Homo sapiens: one gene and its partners. The protein of the gene in region 1 purifies or fractionates together with the protein of each later gene. This does not show direct contact. Each region holds a gene or a part of one and is shown in the gene's direction. Other genes may lie near its edges.

Region 1 (2,706 bases):
AACTTCTAACACGCTGCGTGTTCCAGACATCCTGGCCTTGGTCATCTTTGCAGTCGTCTTCCTGGTGGGAGTGCTGGGCAATGCCCTGGTGGTCTGGGTGACGGCATTCGAGGCCAAGCGGACCATCAATGCCATCTGGTTCCTCAACTTGGCGGTAGCCGACTTCCTCTCCTGCCTGGCGCTGCCCATCTTGTTCACGTCCATTGTACAGCATCACCACTGGCCCTTTGGCGGGGCCGCCTGCAGCATCCTGCCCTCCCTCATCCTGCTCAACATGTACGCCAGCATCCTGCTCCTGGCCACCATCAGCGCCGACCGCTTTCTGCTGGTGTTTAAACCCATCTGGTGCCAGAACTTCCGAGGGGCTGGCTTGGCCTGGATCGCCTGTGCCGTGGCTTGGGGTTTAGCCCTGCTGCTGACCATACCCTCCTTCCTGTACCGGGTGGTCCGGGAGGAGTACTTTCCACCAAAGGTGTTGTGTGGCGTGGACTACAGCCACGACAAACGGCGGGAGCGAGCCGTGGCCATCGTCCGGCTGGTCCTGGGCTTCCTGTGGCCTCTACTCACGCTCACGATTTGTTACACTTTCATCCTGCTCCGGACGTGGAGCCGCAGGGCCACGCGGTCCACCAAGACACTCAAGGTGGTGGTGGCAGTGGTGGCCAGTTTCTTTATCTTCTGGTTGCCCTACCAGGTGACGGGGATAATGATGTCCTTCCTGGAGCCATCGTCACCCACCTTCCTGCTGCTGAAGAAGCTGGACTCCCTGTGTGTCTCCTTTGCCTACATCAACTGCTGCATCAACCCCATCATCTACGTGGTGGCCGGCCAGGGCTTCCAGGGCCGACTGCGGAAATCCCTCCCCAGCCTCCTCCGGAACGTGTTGACTGAAGAGTCCGTGGTTAGGGAGAGCAAGTCATTCACGCGCTCCACAGTGGACACTATGGCCCAGAAGACCCAGGCAGTGTAGGCGACAGCCTCATGGGCCACTGTGGCCCGATGTCCCCTTCCTTCCCGGCCATTCTCCCTCTTGTTTTCACTTCACTTTTCGTGGGATGGTGTTACCTTAGCTAACTAACTCTCCTCCATGTTGCCTGTCTTTCCCAGACTTGTCCCTCCTTTTCCAGCGGGACTCTTCTCATCCTTCCTCATTTGCAAGGTGAACACTTCCTTCTAGGGAGCACCCTCCCACCCCCCACCCCCCCCACACACACCATCTTTCCATCCCAGGCTTTTGAAAAACAAACAGAAACCCGTGTATCTGGGATATTTCCATATGGCAATAGGTGTGAACAGGGAACTCAGAATACAGACAAGTAGAAAGATTCTCGCTTAAAAAAAATGTATTTATTTTATGGCAAGTTGGAAAATATGTAACTGGAATCTCAAAAGTTCTTTGGGACAAAACAGAAGTCCATGGAGTTATCTAAGCTCTTGTAAGTGAGTTAATTTAAAAAAGAAAATTAGGCTGAGAGCAGTGGCTCACGCCTGTAATCCCAGAACTTTGGGAGGCTAAGGTGGGTGGATCACCTGAGGTCAAGAGTTCCAGACCAGGCTGGCCAGCATGGTGAAACCCCGTCTGTACTAAAAATACAAAAAATTAACTGGGCATGGTAGTGGGTGCCTGTAATCCCAGCTACTTGGGAGGCTGAGGTGGGAGAATTGCTCGAACTTGGAGGTGGAGGTTGTGGTGAGCCATGATCGCACCACTGCACTCTAGCCTGGGTGACCGAGGGAGGCTCTGTCTCAAAAGCAAAGCAAAAACAAAAACAAAAACACCTAAAAAACCTGCAGTTTTGTTTGTACTTTGTTTTTAAATTATGCTTTCTATTTTGAGATCATTGCAAACTCAACACAATTGTAAGTAATGATACAGAGGGATCTTGTGTACCCTTCACCCAGCCTCCCCCAATGGCAACATCTTGCAAAACTACAATGTAGTCTCATAACCAGGATATTGACATTGATACAGTGAAGATACAGGACATTCTCATCACCACAGGGATCCCCAGGATGCCCACTTCCCTCCACCCCCACACCCCAGCCGTGTCCCTAACCCCTGGCAACCAGGAATCCACTCTCCATTTCTATAATGTTGTCATTTCAAGAATGTTATTCAATGGAATCATATAGTATGTAACCTGTTTTGAGCTTAAAAAAAAAGTATACATGACTTTAATGAGGAAAATAAAAATGAATATTGAAATGTTGTGTTATTTCTAGTGAATAATTGACTTTGCAGTAGGTATTAGTCGATTTTCACACTGCTGATAAAGACATACCCAAGACTGGGAAGAAAAAAGAGATTTAATTGGACTTACAGTTCCACATTGCTGGGGAGGTCTCACAGTCATGGCAGGAGGCAAAGGCACTACTTACATGGTAGTGGCAAGAGAAAATGAGGAAGAAGCAAAAGTGGAAACTACTGTGAAACCCATCAGATCTTGTGAGACTTATTAACTATCACAAGAATAGCAAGGGAAAGACCGGACCCCATGATTCAATTATCTCCCCCTGGGTCCCTCCCACAACACATGGGAATTCTGAGAGATACAATTCAAATTGAGATTTGGGTGGGGAGACAGCCAAACCATATCACAATATTTCTGCTTTGATTGTGTAGTGTGCATGTGCATGGATTATCTAGAAATAGCGTGCAGACCAGCCAGCTGTGGTGGCTCATGCCTGTAATCCCAGCACTTTGGG
Region 2 (3,500 bases), on another chromosome or scaffold:
CAGTAATATGAAATTCCCAGCAGATACAAATGGAATCTATACAACTTGATATTATTTATAATGAATGAATTATAATAAAGTGTTCCTGGCTTTTGAAAGATGCATCAAAATAAGTGACTAGTAAAATGCCTCTTAAGTCTCTTCAGAATAATGGTATTCTTTTTTTCCCCCATATTTCTTTCTTTTTTGCTTATTTTAACATGGTTTCATTTGTCTTAACTGGTATGTTGAATTTGTCACAAATTACAAGAAAGAACATTAGTGATATTAAAATAATTTTTCCCTCTCCCCATAGCACATTCTTATATTTTCTGTCTGTTGGACATGTCTTGTATTTTATTAGAGAGTTTAATATTTTATTCATGTTACTGGAAAAGTTCTTATAAAAATAGCACTAAATAACTGGATACAGGTTCTTCACAAAGTCGTAAAAACAGAGAAAGGCTTAGGGTTTTGTCTAGCATTGTAAAATAAAATCCAAAGGGCTGGGGGGAACCAACTTTTTATTCTAGCGACTTTTCTGCTTTTTTAGTGTTTCATATCACATAATAAATACATGCAGGTTATGGTATAGGTTACATTCTTTGATTATACTAGCTTAATTTTAAGTGTTTGATTAAGCATCTGTGATGTCGTTAAGATTTTGTTCTTAATTCTCACCTGAAATGAGAATGCTGATGGTGTGCACACTTAGCAGTTTAGTGTTAATGGCTACCTCTGAGGACCATACCTTTTTAATTGAATACTGTATGTAGCGCGACCTTCATGTTGCTGCAGTTGTATCCATTTCCATTAATTTGATCATAGTGAGATTGTTTTTATCAGATAATGTATTAAGTTAAAAAAATATAACAGTATCCAACTTATTAGAAGTAAAGTCCTAAGTATATGTGACTAATACAGCTTTGCATGACCCAACAGATACCAGCTTATTAGATACTTAGTAAACTTTTAAATTGTAGGTATGTGTTGAGCATATGATATAGATGATAGTGGTAAAGTCTATCTTCTTTTTTTTTTTGAGGCACGGACACTTGCTAGTATGTTGAGAGAAGTTGAGAGAAAAAATGAAGAGCTTAGTGTGTTGCTGAAGGCGCAGCAAGTTGAATCAGAAAGAGCGCAGAGTGATATTGAGCATCTCTTTCAACATAATAGGAAGTTAGAGTCTGTGGCTGAAGAACATGAAATACTGACAAAATCCTACATGGAACTTCTTCAGAGGTAAATAAAGTAAAATCTTCTGTGTAAGGTTAGAACCTAGAATGAACATGCAGCATTTCTTTTCTGAGACCCGAAAATCCTTTTGTAAGCATTTCATATATTCTGATAACACATGAGGTAAGTAATTAGCAAGAAACTTAAGTCATTGTGAAATGAAGTGTTGCTTCCTCAAACTCAGTATCAATGTTGGAAACAAAATACAGGTCTTTCCAGTTGACTTCTTTTATGTATTCATAACAGTCAGCAGTCATTTGGGAGATAAGCTCCACAAGGACAAGTTTGTCTGTTTTGATCACTGACAGATCCCTAGGGCCTGTAGGAGTGCTTGCTGCATAGTTAGGCACTTCATTAATAATTTTTAAATAAACTTAGTTGTCAAATTAGTATTAGGTTGAATGGTCATTTCTGCAGATCAAAAGTAGTTGAATATTGGCAATTTCATATCATTCTGCCTAATAGAATGGAAATTTAGGTGTAAGTGTTTAACTCATCTCTTAATATCCTTGATTATAGTTTACTTCCATGTGTGATTACATCTGTAGAATAAGTTCACATAGGTGAATTGCTAAGTTAAAGGGTATGTATATTTAATATTTTGATAGATATTTCTAAATTTTCCTCCAAAATGTGATACAGATTGAGTGTCCTTTTTGAACACAATGGTAGCACTCAAAAAGTTTAATATTTTGGAGCACTTTTGATTTTAGACTGATTTTGGATTTTCAAATTAGTGTTGCTCAACCTGTACCAATTTGTGTGCCTACTAGCAAAGTTTGATTGGTTTTTCCTCCCTTATAAACTCTTTTATCTTTTTAGGCCAGTTGTAAAACTTCTGAATTACAGGGAAGACCAGGAACAATTATGTATTTTCTACCAACCCATAAAAGTAAATACACTCTGGGGGAACTTGTTTATTGCTTTATATTTTAAGATTGTTCTATGTTGTTAATACAGAGATATAGAAATTTTTAGCTTGGCATGGTACATATGCTTATTTCCCATCAATAATAATGAAGGGTGAGAAATGAATAGTATCTAGAAAATGATGACAAAGTGATTTTTTAACAGGATATTTACCCCAGCAACTTTTTACAAAGTCTGATTGTTTGAGGCACCACTGATAAAGTGTAGTATTAGTGATAAGCCAAGTTGAGAACGTCAGCAGTGAAGAAAATACGTTATAGAACTGAAATGGGTTCCATTTGCTCAATACAGTAAAACCAGGTATCTGCACCAAGGTTTGCAGTGATAGAAAAAAAGGCTTTTACTGCAGGGTGCCAAGTAAGGAGGAGCAGGCAGCCAAATGCTCAAATACTGACCTCCCCAATAGCTTGCAAGCAAGGATTTTTAAAGGCGAGTAAATTTCAGGAAAGTGGAAGTTACAGACAAAAATCATAAATAAATAGTTAAAGGTTATACATTGGTTTAAGTTTAAAGGACAGGATATTGTGAAGCAGGGGCTTACAGGTCATGGGTAGACCCAAAGATTTTTCGATTTGCAGTTGGTTAAGGAAGAGCAGCTTTGTTTAAACATTTGGGGTCAGTAGAAAAATGTTAACTAGCTAGGGAGAGTGACTTTGTTCAAGACCCTGAGAAAGAAACTTAGAACAAAGAACAGTGGTTAAAATTCAGCCTTCATTTTCTCCTTACCTGAGCTCTACTTGTCAATGGATCTGGTCAGTGGGCTTCCTCAATGAGGGTCCGGGTCTCTGAAATACAACTCAGGGACATGTGTTAAGTTGTTTTCTTTAAGTTCTATAAAGAATCAAGTATCACTGGTACTCTTAAGTTTGTTAACTTTGATTTAGGCTACTATTACCTTCCTGTTTAACAAGTTACTTATTTACTTCTAGGGCTATCTAGGTCCCTGGAATTTCCCTTGAGTGAACTCAGGATTTTCCTTTATTTTCCAGCTTGAGGTCCTCAGACCTCCTAAAAAGGGGATACCTGCTTTGTCTCACATAGAGAACCTAAGAGATAGGCAGCGTCCAAGAAAAATACGTGGTTTCTAAGACCTGCTTATGTTCCAGCTAGTGATTTAGGGGCTAGAAGGTGAAATTCCTTGAATGGACAAGTGGATAACATGTAAATGAAGCTGGCTGGGGAAAAGGTCATTTGTAATGGTCAGGACTGTCTAAAGGCACTCAAACTCAGATTGTTAAAATTCCTGTATGGATTAGATACAAAAACTGCTGGCCAAGTTTGGCTACTGGTTTTTTTTGTTTGTTTTGGTTTGGTTTTTGGGTTGCTTTTTAAAAATCTTTGTGCTTAGTGAAATA
Region 3 (3,500 bases), 5.3 Mb from region 1:
ACCGTGTTAGCCAGGATGGTCTCGATCTCCTGACCTCGTGATCTGCCCGCCTCAGCCTCCCAAAGTGCTGGGATTACAGGCATGAGCCACCGCGCCCGGCCTCAGTAAACTTTTTTTTGAGATGGAGTCTTGCTCTGTCGCCCAGGCTAAAAGGCAGTGGTGTGATCTTGGCTCACTGCAACCTCTGTCTCTGGGTTCAAGTGATTCTCATATCTCAGCCTCCCGAGTAGCTGGAATTAGAGGCGTGCACCACCACACCCAGCTAGTTTTTGTATTTTTAGTATTGATGGGGTTTCATCATGTTGGCCAGGCTGGTCTTGAACTCCTGACCTCAAGTGATCCACCCACCTCGGCCTCCCAAAGTGCTGGGATTACAGGCATAAGCCATCATGCCCGGCCCATTCAGTATACATTTTTTGACCAGCCACCACATGTTAGGCCCTGTTTTGGGTGCTGGGTGTACACACAGTAGTGAGTGACATGGTGAAGTCACCCCTCTCTGAGACTTACGCTCTGGTTCTAGAAGACAGACAATAACAAAGGCATGAGGAGGTAATCGTAGTGGTTGTGGTGCTGAGGGAGGGAACCCTGCAGGTGTCTGGGGGAAGAGCGCTCCGGTAGCAGGCACAGCCTGTGCAAAGGCCCAGAGGCGGGAGTGTGCTGACGCATCTGAACACCAGCCAGCCAGCCAGTGCAGAGGGGCTGGGAGCCAGGGAGCGTGGTGGGGGTGGTGGGTGCTGGCCAGATCCTGTCAGGCCCCACGGGCATGGAGAGGACTTGGCTGTGACTCTGAGGAGCACACAAGCCTCCAGGGGGCTCTCAGCCAAAGAGAGACAGGAGTTGACTCAGAGCTTTTAAAATAACTTTATTAAGATATAATTAACATACCATAGCTCGTCCCTCTAAGTGTATAATTTAATAGTTTTAGTATATTCGCAGATATAGGCAGCCATCCACATAGTCAATTTTAGAGCATTTTCATCACCTCCAAAAAGAAACCCCACATCTCTCAGCTGTCACCCGCCCCCTCCTCCCCGACACTCCCAGCCCTAAGCAACCACTAACCTACTTTCTGTCCGTATGGTTTTGCCTATTCTGGACATTTCATAAAAATGGAAGCATACAGCTGGGTGTGGTGGCTCACGCCTGTAATCCCAGCACTTTGGGAGACCGAGGCAGGAGGATCGCTTGAACTCAGGAGATGGAGACCAGCGTGGGCAACATAGGGAGAGCATGTCTCTATAAAAAATTAGCCAGGCATGGTGGTGTGGACCTGTGGTCCCAGCTACGTGGGAGACCGAAGCGGGAGGATCGCATGAGCCTGGGAGATCAAGGCTGCAGTGAGCTGTGATCTCGCCACTGTTCTCCAGCCTGGGTGACAGAGTGAGACCCTGTCTTAAAAAAAAAAAACAGGGTGGGAGGAGGGGAGCACAGACGTGGTGGCTTATGCCTGTTATCCCAGCACTTTGAGAGGCCGATGAGGGCAGATCACTTGAGGCCAGGAGTTCAAGACCAGCCTGGCCAACATGGCAAAATCCCGTCTCTACTAAAAATACAAAAGTTAGCTGGGTGTGGTGGTGGTGCCTGTAATCCCAAGCTACTCCGGAGGCTGAGGCAGGAGAATTGCTTGAACCCAGGAGGTGGAGGTTGCAGTGAGCTGAGATCGTGCCACTGCACTCCAGCCTGGGCAACAGAGCGAGACTCTGTCTCAAAAAAAAAAGAAAAAAGAAAAAAAGAAAAAGAAAAAGAAATATATATCCATGACATAGACAGAGCGGACAGGAATGAGCAGAGGTCTCTGTGAGAGAGTGTGGGGGAGCCCTGGTGTGGGCCTATCCTGGCACCCGTGGCTCTGGACAGGGGACAGGATGGGGCAGGGAGCTTCCTGGTGTCTGCGTGGCTCAGGCACGCCACCCTCTGATCGGTCCCCAGCTCTCCATCCATGAGACCGAGGACCCCAACGACAACCGATACCTGCTGGTGATGAAGGGTGCCCCCGAGCGCATCCTGGACCGCTGCTCCACCATCCTGCTACAGGGCAAGGAGCAGCCTCTGGACGAGGAAATGAAGGAGGCCTTCCAGAATGCCTACCTTGAGCTCGGTGGCCTGGGCGAGCGCGTGCTTGGTGCGAGGCTGCCGGGCGGGCTCTGGGGTCCCTGGAGGGCAAGGAGGGTTGTGATGCTGCCCAAAGCCTGTCTCAGCCCAGGGCCTCCCAGAATATACTGTAAATGAATGAATGAATGAATGAATGGATGGATGAGAGGGGAAGGTATCCTAGGAAATGAATGCTGACTGGCCGTCTTGCTGATGGGGAGATGGAATGCGGGCGATGCAGACATCTAGGGGCATGGGGCGGAGGTTCCGAGGCTGGGACCCTCACACCCCAACCCTTCCCTGCCACTAGGTTTCTGCCATTATTACCTGCCCGAGGAGCAGTTCCCCAAGGGCTTTGCCTTCGACTGTGATGACGTGAACTTCACCACGGACAACCTCTGCTTTGTGGGCCTCATGTCCATGATCGACCCACCCCGGGCAGCCGTCCCTGACGCGGTGGGCAAGTGTCGCAGCGCAGGCATCAAGGTGTGGCTTGGGGTGGCTGGGGGAGGCAAAGCCAGGCGTGGGGCGGGAGAGGCCATCCCTAAAAAACAATGCCTGCAGGTCATCATGGTCACCGGCGATCACCCCATCACGGCCAAGGCCATTGCCAAGGGTGTGGGCATCATCTCTGAGGGCAACGAGACTGTGGAGGACATCGCCGCCCGGCTCAACATTCCCGTCAGCCAGGTTAACCCCCGGTGAGCCACCCATCCCAGCCAGGGCCCTGGACATCCCTCTAGGGTGTTGACACAGGGGGACCGCTTCCCCCCAACCTCCCTCTGCACTGCCTGTCCCATTCTTTCTGGGACTCCTCCATGGACCAGGCCCTGGGTCTGGCCCTCCCTCCGGTGTGGGGACATTGCAGCCACAGAGGTAGCCAGGCATAGGTTTGCATCCCAGCCTTTATTTTATTTTATTTATTTATTTATGTTTTTGAGATGGAGTCTTGCTCTGTCGCCCAGGCTGGAGTGCAGTGGGGCAACCTCAGCTCACTGCAGCCTCCGCCTCCCGGGTTCAAGCAATTATCTGCCTCAGCCTCTTGAGTAGCTGGGATTACAGGGGCCCTCCACCATGCCCCGCTAATTTTTTTTTTTTTTTTTTGTATTTTTAGTAGAGACGGGGGTTTCACTATGTTGGCCAGGCTGGTCTCGAACTCCTGACCTCAGGTGGTCCACCTGCCTTGGCCTCCCAAAGTGCTGGGATTACAGGCGTGAGCCACTGCGCCCGGCCTGCATTCCAGCTTATACCGCTCACAAGCTGTGTGACATTGGGCAAGTCCTTTAGCATCCATGAACTTCAGTTTGCCCATCTCTAAAATGGGCTACTAATAATTCCTATCTCAGAGGATTCAGTAGAATCCAGTACTTCTGTGTCTGTCTCTCTTTTTTCCTGTCTGTCTGTCA
Region 4 (3,500 bases), on another chromosome or scaffold:
AAAATGCTGGGGTTACAGGCGTGAGCCACCGCGCCAGGCTTTTTTTTTTTTTTTTTTTTTTTTTTTGAGACAGAGTCTCGCTTTGTTGCTCATTCTGGAGTGCAGTGGCGCAATCTCCGCCTCCCAGATTCAAGCCATTCTCGTGCCTCAGCCTCCCAAGTAACTGGGATTATAGGCCCATGCCACCATGCCCGGCTGATTTTTGTATTTTTAGTAGACACGGGGTTTCGCCGTGTTGGCCAGGCTGGTCTGGAACTCCTGACCCCAAGTGATCCCTCCCAAAGTGCTGAGATTACAGGCGTGAGCCGCCATGCCTGGTTGGAGGGCTTTGGCTTTTATTAAGTGAACCGTGAAGCCACAGCTAGATTTCGCGTTGAGATTCAACTTCAAAGGATCACTTTGGTTGCTGTGTTGAGAAGAAACTGTAGGGGGCCCAAAACAGAATCAGGAAAACTGGTTAAGAAGCTATTATAATAATCCATGGGAAGGATAGCAGTTTGGATCAGGTAGTATTATTACTGATGATGAGCAGTGGTCCCTAGAAGGCCCTTGGGATTTACTGAGAAGTTGGATATGGAGAATAAAGAGTCAAGCTGGACCCCACGTTTTTGGCTTAGCAGTTATAAAGATACTTATTACTGCTCATGAATGGGAAAGACTGGGAAGAAAGGGATGCAAGGGATTCTAGGGGTATAAGGGAGAGGTTAGAATGGTAGACCATGGAGTGTAAACTGGATATGGAGGAAGTGAAGTCATGGGGAGTGAGAGACAGTGAAAAGGTGGTTGGATCATTGACTTGTGGGTCCTGTTGGGGTTGAAGAATTATTGGAATTGGGTAATAGAAGGAGTGAGATGCAAAGATAGGAGGTGGTGCTTAGAGAGTAAAATGGATGAAACTGAGATGAGGAGGTCCGATGTATTGATAATGACAATAGGGCCCTGTCTGATAGAAAAACAGTGTAAGGCACAAATGTAATCTTAGGCTTTCTAGAAGGTGCAGTGATAAAAATGGGCTGGGTCCGGTGGCTCACGCCTGTAATCCCAACACTTTAGGAGGCCAAGGCAGGTGGATCACCTGAGGTCAGGATTTCAAGACCAGCCTGGCCAACATAATGAAACCCCGTCTCTACTAAAAATACAAAAAAATTAACTAGGCATGGTGGCAGACACCTGTAATCCCAGCTACTCGGGAGGCTGAGGCAGGAGAATCGCTTGAACCGGGGAGGCGGAGGTTGCAGTGAGCTGAGGTGGCACCACTGCACTCCAGCCTGAGTGACAGAGCGAGACTCCCATCTCAAAAAAAAAAAAAAAAAAAAGAATTTACTCAAAGAGAATAAAAAGAATCCAGGACTGTAGACAAACTTCTAAAATATTTTATAGTTTCTTCAAAATTAAGTGGTTCAACTGGCATGGCATAGTACTAATTAAAGGTGAACTACAGTAGCCAATTGGACTAGAATGAAGCACAGAATGCGAGCTTTTGAAGGGATTTTGGAAGCAGCAGGTTCTACCTCCTAAATATCACTGTGAATCATCTTTGTCCTTATCCTGAAGAGAGGTAGTAAATACAAGGTAGTGGGTAAGAGTGTTGACTTTGGAATTGGGAAAGCCTGGGTTTTATTTTAGTTACATCTCTGCAGCTTCTTAACGGTGAGCACTTAGCCTCTTTAAACCTCAGTTTCCTAATCAGTGAAATGGGATCATTATGAGGTGAAGCCGAGCACTTAGCATGTAGAAAGCGCTCAGAGTGATGTCAGAGTCTGTCTTGTTTCCTCCTACATATCATCACCAAAAATTTGTTTCATGAACATGCATTTGACCGTGTGACTCTGAGTTAAAAGCTCAGCTTTCTCCCCACCTGTAGAAACTTTTTAGGATGACTTTATATATCCTTTGGTGATCTGGCCATCGGCTCTTTTGGTCCTTACCTCCTGCAGCTCACTCCTACCTCCCCGAGATGGGGAGATGAATAGGACTCCATGCCTGGGGTGTTTAACTTGCTGATCCTTCTGCCCTTTCAAGACTCAGTTCAAATGTCACCTCTGTGACAATGCCACACTCTTCACATGCTCCTTTCTCTGGACTAGAGCAATTTGTGCATCTCGTTCATTTTCCTCTGCTAGACTTTGAATTCTGAGATCATTGATTCATCTATCTCTAGCACCTAACATATTATTTTTAAAAAAAGAATTATTGATTACTACGGTCTAACTTTTTTTTTTTTTTGAGACAGAGTCTCATTCTGTCGCCCAGGCTGGAGTGCAGTGGGGCAATCCTGGCTCACTGCAACCTCTCCCTCCCTGGTTTGAACGATTCTATATCTCAGCCACCTGAGTAGCTGGGATTAAAGCCACTATGCTTGGCTAATTTTTTTTTGTATTTTTAGTAGAGATGGGGTTTTGCCATGTTGGCCAGGCTGGTTTTGAACTCCTGGCCTCAAGTGATCCCCCCAGCCTTTAGCCTCCCAGAGTGCTGGGATTACAGGCGTGAGCCACCATGTGTGGCCTACTATAGGCTAACTTTAAAATAACACATTTCATACTGTAAATAAGGGGGAAATTCTGTTTACCTTGTCTGGAATGTTCATGTGTGTATCTGACATGCCTCGCACTCCCATGCCCAGCCCCAAGCTGAAAAGCACCTTCGCCTTCTAGAATCAGCTTAGATCTTTCTGGGAACCTTTCCTGATTTTTTTTTTTTTTTTCCTGAGACAGAAAAAGGGCTGGAATGCAGTGGTACAATCATGACTCACTGCAGCCTCAGTCTTCTGGGCTCAAGTGATCCTCCCACCTCAGCCTGTGAGTAGCTGGGACTACAGGCATGAGCTGCCATCACACCCAGCTAATTTTTAAATTTTTGTCATTTTTGTAGAGATGAGGTTTCACCATGTTGCCTCAGCTGGTCTGGAACTCTTGGACTCAAGCGATCCACCTGCCTCAGCCTCCCAGTGTGCTGGGATTACAAGTGTGAGCTACAGTGCCTGGCCAGCACAGATTTTTATATACTTGATATGCTAATGAAGTAAATGAAGTGGTCCCATCACTATTTTTTTTAAGGTTCTTGTTATGTCAGTAGCTTTATAATCTTGTAATCTTCCAGGAAGAAGGCCAAATGTTGCTAAAGGCAAAGTGGCAGAAACACTGTACTTATATTTTTAACCTTGTTCTTTTACTAGAATTAACTTAGAATGTATCTGTTTTACAAATTTTTCTAACAGAAATATGCCTGCTACCTAGGGAAATATTATATATGTTTTAAACATTAATTTAAAAACTTGAACTTTGAATTCCTTTTCTTTTAGCTTGGGATGTGGTAATGCCAGCCACACTCCTCAGAGCCGTGGCCAGATCTCATCATATATTATCAAAAGCACATCAGTGCCGAAGAATCGGTCATCTAATGTTAAAACCACTTAAGGAATTTGAAAATACAACATGCAGCACACTGACAATACGTCAAAGCTTGGATTTGTTCCTTCCTGATAAAACAGCTAGTGGTTT
Region 5 (4,084 bases), about 28 Mb from region 1:
ATAAAATATAAACCAGGCCCGGTGGCTCACGCCTGTAATCTCAGCACTCTGGGAGGCCGACGTGGGCGGATCACCTCAAGTCGGGAGTTCAAGACCAACCTGATCAACATGGAGAAACCTCATCTCTACTAAAAATGCAAAATTAGCCAGTCGTGGTGGTGCATGCCTGTAATCCCAGCTACTCGGGAGGCTGAGGCAGGAGACTCACTTGAACCCAAGAGGCGGAAGTTGCGGTGAGCCAAGATCACACCATTTCACTCCAGCCTGGGCAACAAGAGCGAAACTCCGTCTCAAGAAAAAAAAAAATTAATACACAAATACATAATAAAATGTAAAAACGAAAAGGTAATTACTCAGGCCCCACACACAGGAACCCACCCCCATAAAGATGCTCAGACACTCAGTCATACCCAATATATGTCTACACTCAGGCAGACACACTCATCCACAGAAAGACAAATGGCAAAACCGGGGCACAAACACCAGAAGCCCTTTCCTCCTAGCGGTGAAATAAAGAACATCAGATCCCTGAAGCTGACATTTGGTCCTTGATCCAGCCACGCCTGAAGCTGACACTATGGCTAGTATTTTCTGTCACATGAGCCAAAAATTTTCCTTTTTTGCTTGAACCCATGTTAGTTGATATTTTGTGGAGCACAGCCAGAGTCCTAGCTGATAGAGATGAATAAGGCACTTGCCAGGTGAAAAAGATTGAGGCATTCTTTTTTGCTTTTGTTTTGTTTTTATTTTAAGATTGAGGCATTCTTGAAGGCATTGCAAGATGTAGGATATTTACAAAGGCCTGGAGGTATGAGACAGCATGGTGGGTGCAAGTTGTACTATAGGGTGCACAATAGTGCTAGCAGCAGATTTAAGTCAGGCAGAAGGGTCTGAATTCAGTCTGAGTACTTAGCCTACTTAGTACTTAGGAGTACTAAGTACTTCGTCTACTAAGTGGGAGCCATTGAATGTTCTTGATGGGGGGAGGGAATTCTACTCTCAGAAATGTCCCTTAGGTGGGAATAAATGCTTTCGCTGCAAACCTTTGAGATAAGTGTAGGAAAGAGAAAACTAAGCCTTAAGAGAGGTCGGCCACGCAGGCCTCCCAGACACAATCTTCACTTTGATCGATCCGAACCAGCGTATCTGAACTACAATTTCCGGCATGCAACGCGAGCGGCCTCCTCGTCCCTGGTGATTTGCCGGCTCAAGACACACTGATTGGTCGGACGGGATGCTCGTCAGACCAGAGTCGGGCTCTAATTGGTCGAGTTTCCGCAGAGTGCCCGGAGCCCTAGGCCGGTGGGTGAGTGCACCGCGTTCTCGCACGCGTCATGGTGAGCGAGCGTCCCGCGAAGTGGGGGGTTCTGCAGGGCCGAGGTCCAGCCGAAGGGGTCCAGGGAGACACTGAGGGAATGGATTGGGGTTTCTTCTTGGGGATTGGAGGCTCTGAGGGATTCGGGGGCACGCTGAAGGCCGTGTGTCCCTCTCTGGGAGCCCTGCTCTCGCTACAGGACCTCCGAGGGAGTCGGCGGGAGTTGTACCCAGGGGGACTAGAAGCCCCTAAGCGTTCTGGGGATTCTGCCCTCGAGACCTTTTAGGGGTCTGGGATCCTTTTGAGGGGTCGTGGTCCCACAGAGGGGACTGGGGACCCCAGCACATTTGGAACCTGGTTAAGGCGGTGTGGGGTCCTGTTGGGGGTCCACTCTGGGGACGGGGGTCCTGCAGGAGCGTGGGGGCCGCGCCGACAGGATCCATCGGGGGTCCCTGCTATATCGGGGTGTGTGGAACGGGCAGGGGAGGCCGTGGGAGGTGGACTCAGGAGGTCTGGTTGGCCTCAGGGCGGGCAAGGTTCTCAGAGTGGGAGACAGGAAAGTTGGAACCTTCAGGTCTCACGCGGCTCTGGGTCCAACCTATTGAGTGTGTTCTTAAAACTTAGCCCAGCCCCTGGGGGTCAGGCTGGTGCAGGGAGATGGGGGACTCCCACAACCCTGACGGGACCGGCCTGGGCAGAGAGAGGGACGTGGAACTGGAGGGTCTCTGCCTGGGACCATCCCCGAGGAGGGGCGCTGGAGATGGCCCTGAAGGAAGGGCACTGATGGCCGGAATTATTGAAAGTGGGGCGTCGTCCCAGGCGGAGGTGCAGGACGCCGTAGGAGATGAAGGCACAGGCTCCCGGGAATGAGGAGGGAGGCTGCATTGATTTTATCAGGGTTCTTGAGTTCGAGAATCGTAAATCCAGTGAAGGGAAAAGAAGGAGCTGATGGAAGACTCCAGAAAATTCTTGCAGATGTCTGCAGAGCCCTGACCCTGAGACAGGAGGCTGGGTGGAGGGCAGGGCCATCAGAACATCCCTGGACAGACCTCTGGGAGCCTTAGGTGGAGAGATGCACCCCTCCACCACCTTTTCCCTTGGGGGGTTTTGGGGGGTGGTGGGGTCATTGATGAAGAGCCCAAAGGTCCAGGAAGACCTCTGAGACTCCAGTGGTTGGGTGCAGGGAGGGCTGAGGAGAGAGCTGAGCTGTGGGGAGGTGGAGGGATGGTCTCTAGCTATGCCTGCAGGGTGCAGAACCAAGTTGGGGGCTGACTGTGAGACTGGGAAGGGCCTGAACCACCTGGAAGGGTATGGGATGATGGGTGAGTGCTAGGGTCTCCCAGGAGAGCCTGGAGGAGGCTACTGGTTGAGCTCAGCAGAGAGGTCTGGGCTGGAGGTGTCACCGTGCTGAGGTTTTGATGGGCTGGCTGATTGGGTGGTTAAAACCCTGGCAGGTCACAGGAGAGAGGTCGGAGAGAGAGGAGAAAAACAGACTGGGGGGTGGGAGGGCAGGGTCCTAGGGGAAGGGTGGGGCTTCAACAGCCCTGACCCACTGGCTTGCAGGGGCCCATGGGCTGGCACTCATGGTCCCTAAGTGCCAGCCAGCCAGTCTGCACTAGGGTCCCGGGGAGGGCGAGCAATGAGGACTTAGAGATGAGAAAGATGCCGCCACCAACCTCATTACTGAAAAAAGATTTCTGGTCTCAGTTTACAAGTCACAGGTACAGAGAAAATGTCCTATTAGTCTGTTATTTTATGTATTTTTATTTTATTATTATTATTATTTTGTTTTGAGACAGAGTCCCACTCTGTTGCCCAGGCTGGAGTGCAGTGGCACAATCTCGGCTCACTGCAACCTCTGCCTCCCAGGTTCAAGCAATTCTGCTGCCTCAGCCTCCCAAGTAGCTGGGATTACAGGCGCCCACCACCATGTCTGGCTAATTTTTGTATTTTTAGTAGAGACAAGGTTTCATCATGTTGGCCAGGCTCGTCTCAAACTCCTGACCTCAAGTGATCAGCCCGCCTCAGCCTCCCAACATGCTGGGATTACAGGCACGAGCCACCGCACCTGGCCTCAGCAGTCATTTTGAATTACCGTGCTAGGCCCGGTACCCATCACATTAGGGTTTTTCCGACTAAATTTAGCTTATTTATGCCTGATTAAAGGATTATTTTCATAATTAATTTTACTATTAAATAAACTTTATTTCATTTTGATGATAATTCCAGAACACTAGTAGACAGCTCTCCTGAGCACATAATTTTACATAATTATGTAATTACTGGCAGCAAATGGGTATTTACTGCATTCAAGCAGGAAAACCCAGCTTCACCACAGACTGATTCTTCTAAAACGTTTAAAAATAAGTATATGAAAATGTGTTCTGAATTAAGAACTGGGTGAGAAAATTCCTAATTAAAAAAAAAAAAAGCCTTAGCTGGGTGTGTTGGCACATGACTGTAGTCCTAACTACTCGGTAGGTTGAGGTGGGAGGATCACTTGAGCCCAGGAGTTTGAGACCAGCCTGGACAACATAGCAAGACCCCATCTCTAAAAATAAAAATAAAAATAGGCCGGACACAGTGGCTCACGCCTGTAATCCCAACCGTTTGGGAGGCCAAGGCAGGAGGATTGCTTGAGCCTAGGAGTTCAAGACCAGCCTGGCAACATGGAGAAACCCTGTCTCTACAAAATAGACAAAAATTAGTTGGGTATGGTGGCGAGTGCCTGTAATCCCAGCTACTAGGGAGGCTGATGTGGGAGAATCA
Region 6 (3,500 bases), on another chromosome or scaffold:
CTGCCCTGTTCATACCCAACTAGCTACCTAATGTAACACAGTCACTTCTTAAAGGTCCTACCTTTCAATATTTTAATAATATTAATTTAAATATTAATTTCCAAAAAATGAAATTTGGGGGACACATTCAAACCATGGCACCACCTCTTAGCTTCTGTGACATTTCTCTATCCTGGCTTTCCTCTTAACTCTAATGACTTATTCTTAAATTCTTTTGTGTATTCTTCCTTATCAGTTTATCCCTTGTTGGTTTTTCTATGAGGTTGGAGAGAGAGTGTGTGTGTGTGTGTGTGTGTGTGTGTGTGTGTGTTCACACGTGCATATGTGTGTTTTATCCTAGATTCTGAACTTTGTCCCATATTAGATGTATAGCCAACAATTTATTAGATAAATCCATGGTACTTGGATGAACCCAGGCTCCTCAGGTCTTTACACATTTGTCTCCCTTTTTACTGGAATGCTTTTCCTCTCTCCATCTTTCTTTTGCTCTCCCCTTTCTCCTTCCTCACTGTCTTTTATTCACTCTTCAAGGTTTTGCTCCAGTGTCACCTCCTCTGGAAAGCCTTCTCTCTCTCTCTGTTTTTTTTTTTTTTTTTGCAATGGAGTCTTGCTCTGTTGCCCTGGCTGGCATGCAGTGGCGTGATCTTGGTGCGCTGCAATCTCTGCCTTAAGGGTTCAAGCGATTCTCCTGCCTCAGTCTCCCAAGTAGCTGGGACTACAGACGCCAGCTACCACACCCGGCTAATTTTTGTATTTTTAGTAGAGACGGGGTTTCACCATACCGGCCAGGCTGATCTCTACCTGACCTCAGGTGGTCCACCCACCTCGGCCTCCCAAAGTGCTGGGATTTCCACCTCCTGGGTTCAAGCGATTCACATGCCTCAGCCTTCCAAGTAGCTGGGATTACAGGCACCCGCCACCATTCCTGGCTAATTTTTATAATTTTAGTAGAAGTGGGTTTTCGGCATGTTGGCTAGGCTGATCTCGAACGCCTGACCTCAGGTGATCCTGCCTCAGCCTCCCCAGTTGCTGGGGTTACAGATGTGAGCCACTGCACCTGGCCTGGAAAGGCTTCTCTCACTGTCCCTCACAACAATTTGGGTCAGAAGCTTTTCCTGTATACTCCCGTTTCCCTTTATCATTAGCCCTTAATATGGAGTGTCCTAACACTGTATTTACAGAGAGTTTACTTAACTCCCCTACTAGATTGTCTAGATTGTTAGGATTGTTTTTTTTTTTAATTTTTGTGGTTTTTTTTGTAAATGGAGTCTCGCTCTGTCACCCAGGCTCGAGGTCAGTGATGCAATCTTGGCTCACTGCAGCCTCCACCTCCAAGGTTCAAGTGATTCTCCTGCCTCAGCCTCCCAAGTAGCTGGGATTACAGTCGTGCACCACCACGCCCAGCTAATTTTTGTATTTTTAGTAGAGACAGGGTTTCACTGTGTTGACCAGGCTGGTCTCAAACTCCTGACCTTGGGTGACCCACCACCTCAGCCTCTCAAAGTGCTGGCATTACAAGTGTGAGCCACCATGCCCAGCCCAGTTTTTACGAATTTCTACTTTTTGAAAATGCTCTCCTAAAATATATTTTTAAAGGAATATAAGAAGAAAAGAAATACAAATTTTACTTTTTACTGGTTTAGTGCCATATTTTCATTGCTATTTTGAAAATAATATTACATGAAATTATTACCCATTACACTAAAAATTCTTTCCATGCTGGTAGTCATTGGAATTGGCACAATTCTGGAGCAACGTCTTCTCTACTAAAAAGATATTTTCATGTATCAAAATTCTTAATTTCTTGGCATTTAGTCTTTTTAGTCAAAATTCTCAAAAGAAGGATATTAGTAGTGATTAGGTCTACTCAGCATACTATGTTGAGTTTTGAAAAGTACTCTCTTTTCTCCAGATATTTTGAAAACTCTTTAAAGAGTCTTGCTATCAGGCCCAGTGCTGTGACTCACGTGCCTGTAATCCCAGCGCTTTGGGAGGCCAAGTTGGGAGGATTGCTTGAGCCCAAGAGTTCAAGACCAGCCTGGGTAACGATATAAGACCTCGTCTCTACAAAAAAATTTAAAAAGTTATCTGGGTATGGTGGTGCTACTCCCTGTAGTCCCAGCTGCTTGGGAGCCTGAGTTGGGAGGATTTCTTGAGCAAAGGAGTTTGAGGTTACAGTGAGCCAAGATTATGCCACTGTATTCTGGCCTGGGTGACAGAGCCAGACCCTGTCTCAGAAAAAAAAAAAAAAAAAAGTTTTGCTTTCAAACCACTACACATTTAACATTAAAATTGAGTTTTCATTGCTTTTTTGAAAATTAAAATTTTATGTAACATGAAATTATTATTTTCTATTTTAGTAGAGATGACAAATGAAGCTAAAGGTAATACAGGAAGAAAATGAAAACCAGAGTACCTAAAATGAAAGATATTTTAACGGCTAGAACTTTAAATATTATGTATCATTATACTTTTGCATATTATTTCTTATTTTTTTCATAAAGAAAAACGCACCTAAATATTTTCACTTTAAATATCTTTAGGGAATTACCAGGCACGGTGGCTCACACCAACAATCCCAGCACTTTGGGAGGCCAAGGCAGGCAGCTCACCTGAGGTCAGGAGTTAAGAGATCAGCCTGGCCAACATGGTGAAACCGCGTCGCTACTAAAAAAAATATAAAAATTAGCTGTGCCCACGTGGTGGCACATGCCTGTAATCTCAGCTACTTGGGAGGCTGAGGCAGGAGAATCGCTTGAACCTGGGAGGTAGAGGTTGTAGTGACCTGAGATCGCACCATTGCACCCCAGCCTGGGCAACAAGATCAAAACTCCGTCTCAAAAGTAAATAAATAAATAAAATAAAATAAATAAATAAATATCTTTAGGGAACAAAAGGTCATAGTTTTCCTTATTAAATTGTTCTACCACTTATCTATATTTGTTTAAATTTATTTCCTAAAATTTAATAAAAGCCATTAAATAGGAAGATTAGAGATAGAATCTTCCTATGTTGCCCAGACTGGAGTGCAGTGGCTTTTCACAGGTACAGTCATAGTGTGTTACAGCCTCCAACTCCTGGGCTCAAGGGATCCTTCTACTCTAGACTGCTGAGTAGCTGAGATTACAGGCATGGGCCACTTCGCCTGGCTTAGCCTACCACATATGAAAAAAAGTAATCTGGCTGAGTGCGGTGGCTCATGCCACTAATCCCAATATTTTGGGAGGCCAAGGTGGGAGAATTCCTCCCTCCCGCGGCAGGAGGATTGCTTTGAGAGTTGGAGGCGGGAAGTTCAAGACCAGCCTGGGCAACATAGGGAGACCCTGTCTCTACAAAAATAAAAAAATTAGGTGGGCATGGTGGTGCATACCTGTAGTCCTGGCTACTCAAGAGGCTGAGGCAGGAGGATCACTTGGGCCTCAAAGGTCGAGGCTGCACTGAGCCGTGATCGGACCACTGCGCTCCAGCCTGGATGTCAGAGTGAGACCCTGTCTCAAAAA
Region 7 (3,500 bases), on another chromosome or scaffold:
AAAGGAAACTGTGGCCCAGCCAGGCACAGGGACTTGTCCAAGGTCACACCGTGTTCTGTAGAGACCTGGGCTTCTTGCAAGTGCTCTCAGGCCCCAGACAAGAAGCAGCAGAGGCCTGTGTTGGCCCCTGGTTTTCCCCAGGTGTTTGACTGTGGGTGGAAAGTATGAGAGCCCTGGGCCCAGCCCTGCTCCTGACCAGCTGTGTGATCTTGGCCAAGTCACTTCCTCTCTCTGCCCTCAATCTTCTCATCTGTGGCCAGGCAGGCCTATCTCTGCCCTGTTTTATGCCACAGCTGCCAGAGAGCCCTGGACACTGTAGAGGGCTGTGCACGAAGGTGTGATTGGCATCAGGATCAGGAGCCGGAGCAGGTGAGCACCTTGCTGCTGCAACTGGCCAACTCTGAGATCAGAAAGGGAAAAAAGGAAAGAAATCTCTAGTTTGCAGATCGGAGGTCAGAAAAGCTGCCTGTGGCTTATGCTATGTGCAGAGCCTGAAACACTGGCCCATCCGCCTGCTGTCCCACTGCCCTCCTCTGCCTTCCCCCTGCCCAGCCACAGGTATGGGTCAGGAAACCCATTAATGCATTAATTAACCTAAAGATCACCTGATGGGGGCAGATTTCTGGGCCCTACCTTGATGAATCAGGAGGTCCCAGGGGCTACATTTCCACAGGTACCCCTGGGTTTTCACCCATTTCACTCCGCACCCTGGGGAGCTGAGGTGCTTAAGAGTGGGCTTGGTGGAGCACATAGGCGCTCAGAGCTGGGGGTGGCCTAGACACCATGCTGTTCTGCCTGTACCTGTCACACGTGGGGAAACTGAGGTCTCCAGCCTAGTGGGTGACTGAATGAGACTGAAACTCATTTCCTCTCCCCACCAGTCCCCTACCAACCCCTAGCCCCTGGCTTCACCCTGCACAGCTAAATCAGGCCCTCCTGAGGACCGATGAACCCTCAAATCCAAAACAAGGCCATCTTCTCAGCAGACAGCTGGGAGCCATGCTCCAAGGGCACTCTCCAAGACCCCATCTCTACAAAAAATTTAAAAATTAGCAGGGTGTGGTGGCATACTCCTGTCGTCCCAGCTATGCAGGAGGCTGAGGTGGGAGGATCGCTTGAGTCCGGGAGGTCAAGGCTGCAGTGAGCCGTGATTGTGCCACTGCACTCCAGCCTGGATGACAGAGCGAGACCCTGTCTCAAAAAAAAAAAAAAACCGTTTAAAAAATGGGTTATGCTATGGAAAACTCCTGGGACCTCCTGCTGGGCAGTGTGGCTTCGGCTTCACCCCGGTCTTCACTTGACAGTCTGGATGGAGGCGGCGGGAGGCAGGGGGAAGCGGGAGTGACGGTAAAAGCCTTAGAAGTGTCATTCACAGTCTAGGAAATCTCTGCAGGGTCAGAGAGTTCCAGATATGTGGCCAGAGACCACGGCTGGCAGGACCAGGAGGGCAAGTGACCAGGCCCGAGCAGGGGCCACAGCTCAGGTTCCTAAAGAAACAGAGGTCCCTGGGTATGGGGGAGAGTGTGTTGGTCTGAGGGTCAGGAGAGCTGGGTCCCAGGCCGGCTCATCACTGGCGAGTGACCTTGGAAAAGCTGTGTAAGCCCTCTGGTCCCAAGCTCTCCCCTTGTGAGAGGGGTCAGTGATCCTGCCCCCCAGTGTCCTTGGTGAGGGCAGCTTCTCCTGCCCACTGCCCCTTGGGGTGAAGGGTCAGAAACACTGCAAGTCTCAGGAAGTAGCAAGGAGAGCAACTGCAGGGACAGCCCGTTGTGTTTGTTTTCTGTGGCTGCCATAACAAATGACCACAGGCTAGGTGGCTTCAAACAACAGACGTGTATTGTCTCCCACTTCTGGAAGCCAGAAGTCTAGAGTCAGGAGCCAGCAGGGTTGGCTTTTCCTGGAGAGGCTGAGGAAGAGCCTGTCCCTTGTCTCCCTAGCTACGGGCAGTGGCCAGCAACCCTTGCTCTTCCTCACCTTGTGGCTGCGTCACACCCATCTCTGCTTTCATCTTCACCTCACTCCTTCCTGTGTGTCTCTCGGTGTCCTCTCCTCTGCTTCTAAAGACATTGGTCATTGGATTTAGGGCCCAACCTAGACCCAAGATGATTTCATCTCAAAATCCTTAGCTAATTCCATCTGCAAAGATCCTATTTCCAAACAAGGTCACATTCTGAGGTTCCAGGTGGGCATGAACTTTGGATAGGACACCGTTCAACCCACTGCAGTCACTAAGATTTATGAGGTGTTTATTGCTCATAAGACCTGCACACAGTCTTATCTCTTCTTCACCATCACCCATTTTCCGGATTACAGAAACCAGGGCCCAGAGACATTAAGAATGTGCCCAAGTCAGGCCAGGCGCAGTGGCTCATACCTGTAATCCAAGCACTTTGGGACGCCAAGACAGGTGGATCACCTGAGGTCAGGAGTTCGAGACCAGCCTGGCCAACATGGCAAAACCCCGTTTCTACTAAAAATACAAAAAAAGTTAGCCGGGCCTGGTGGTGCATGCCTGTAATCCAGCTACTCAGGAGGCTGAGACAGGAGAATCATTTGATCCTGGGAGGTGGAGGTTGCAGTGAGCCAAGATGGAACCATTGCACTCTAGCCTGGGTGACAGAGTGAGACTCTATCTCAAAAAAAAAAAAAAAAAAAAAAGAATGTGCCCAAGTCACACAGCAAGTGAGGGGCAGAGCTGGGATTTGAACCCAGGTCCCTGGTGCTCCTTCACCTTTCCACCTTTTTGTAGCTGGCTGGGGGATGCCCAGAGACCCCTTAGGGCCCACAGCTAGGAATCCATGGGGCAGGAATTCCAGCCAGCCCTATGAAGACCCCAGGTCTGCAGGGGCTCCTGGGCACCAGAGAGAGGCTGGAGACAGGCAGGGGAGCTTCAAGGTGTGAAGGGGCCCAGCCGTGGTCCCAGGAGACCAACATGTGGCAGAGGATTGAGAGCCACAGTTCCTTGTCTCTGCCACTGACTCTGTGAACGTCATTGTGCTCTTCCGGAGAATAGGGGCAGCAGCACTGACTTTATGGGGTAATTGCCAAGTACCGAAATGTTCATCATAATAGTACTAATCGCTAAAATGTGTCCGCAAGCACTTTACAAATGCTTTTTGTTTTCCCATGTAATGCGTGGGAGGGGAATTGCTTATTCAGTCATGTGCGTTCGGTTGTGTGTGGTTGAACCAGTGACTTCGCCTCAGTTTGCTCCTCCGTAAACCAAGGGTTAGCTGAGCACCCATCTTCCCGGTTGTCACGTGAGGCAAACAGGATCCAAGTACAGGGCTTGGCCCGGGTGTGGTCCAGGTAGAGGCTCAGCGGATGTTTTCTTGCCTGTAAGATGGGATAGTGGTAGTATTATGATGATGCTATTATTTGTTGTATGAGGATTTGGTGAAGTAATGCAAAGGAAGCACTTGGCTCAGGGCCTCGCCAGAAATTGATGGAAAGTGGCCTCCTTTGTGGCATCAGAAAGATTTGAGTATAAATCCTAATGCCAG

Evidence for each region.
Region 2: the proteins of C5AR1 (region 1) and CIP2A purify together in Homo sapiens (affinity purification with mass spectrometry; one large-scale study listed by BioGRID and IntAct). This does not show direct contact.
Region 3: the proteins of C5AR1 (region 1) and ATP1A3 purify together in Homo sapiens (affinity purification with mass spectrometry; one large-scale study listed by BioGRID and IntAct). This does not show direct contact.
Region 4: the proteins of C5AR1 (region 1) and RMND1 purify together in Homo sapiens (affinity purification with mass spectrometry; one large-scale study listed by BioGRID and IntAct). This does not show direct contact.
Region 5: the proteins of C5AR1 (region 1) and TMEM161A purify together in Homo sapiens (affinity purification with mass spectrometry; one large-scale study listed by BioGRID and IntAct). This does not show direct contact.
Region 6: the proteins of C5AR1 (region 1) and MFSD8 purify together in Homo sapiens (affinity purification with mass spectrometry; one large-scale study listed by BioGRID and IntAct). This does not show direct contact.
Region 7: the proteins of C5AR1 (region 1) and ATP2B2 purify together in Homo sapiens (affinity purification with mass spectrometry; one large-scale study listed by BioGRID and IntAct). This does not show direct contact.

What each region holds. Positions count from the first base shown.
Region 1 is NC_000019.10:47,319,861-47,322,566, forward strand, and holds the end of C5AR1 (C5a anaphylatoxin chemotactic receptor 1), read left to right. Parts: coding exon 1-970; 3' UTR 971-2,206; downstream 2,207-2,706.
Region 2 is NC_000003.12:108,554,939-108,558,438, reverse strand, and holds part of CIP2A (protein CIP2A), read left to right. Parts: intron 1-1,024; coding exon 1,025-1,221; intron 1,222-3,500.
Region 3 is NC_000019.10:41,977,231-41,980,730, reverse strand, and holds part of ATP1A3 (sodium/potassium-transporting ATPase subunit alpha-3), read left to right. Parts: intron 1-1,932; coding exon 1,933-2,125; intron 2,126-2,404; coding exon 2,405-2,580; intron 2,581-2,658; coding exon 2,659-2,795; intron 2,796-3,500. UniProt on the Homo sapiens protein: This is the catalytic component of the active enzyme, which catalyzes the hydrolysis of ATP coupled with the exchange of sodium and potassium ions across the plasma membrane.
Region 4 is NC_000006.12:151,445,627-151,449,126, reverse strand, and holds part of RMND1 (required for meiotic nuclear division protein 1 homolog), read left to right. Parts: intron 1-3,301; 5' UTR 3,302-3,315; coding exon 3,316-3,500. UniProt on the Homo sapiens protein: Required for mitochondrial translation, possibly by coordinating the assembly or maintenance of the mitochondrial ribosome.
Region 5 is NC_000019.10:19,135,679-19,139,762, reverse strand, and holds the start of TMEM161A (transmembrane protein 161A isoform 1 precursor), read left to right. Parts: upstream 1-1,284; 5' UTR 1,285-1,334; coding exon 1,335-1,337; intron 1,338-4,084. UniProt on the Homo sapiens protein: May play a role in protection against oxidative stress. Overexpression leads to reduced levels of oxidant-induced DNA damage and apoptosis.
Region 6 is NC_000004.12:127,944,674-127,948,173, reverse strand, and holds part of MFSD8 (major facilitator superfamily domain-containing protein 8), read left to right. Parts: intron 1-3,500. UniProt on the Homo sapiens protein: Outward-rectifying chloride channel involved in endolysosomal chloride homeostasis, membrane fusion and function. Conducts chloride currents up to hundreds of picoamperes.
Region 7 is NC_000003.12:10,499,087-10,502,586, reverse strand, and holds part of ATP2B2 (plasma membrane calcium-transporting ATPase 2), read left to right. Parts: intron 1-3,500. UniProt on the Homo sapiens protein: ATP-driven Ca(2+) ion pump involved in the maintenance of basal intracellular Ca(2+) levels in specialized cells of cerebellar circuit and vestibular and cochlear systems.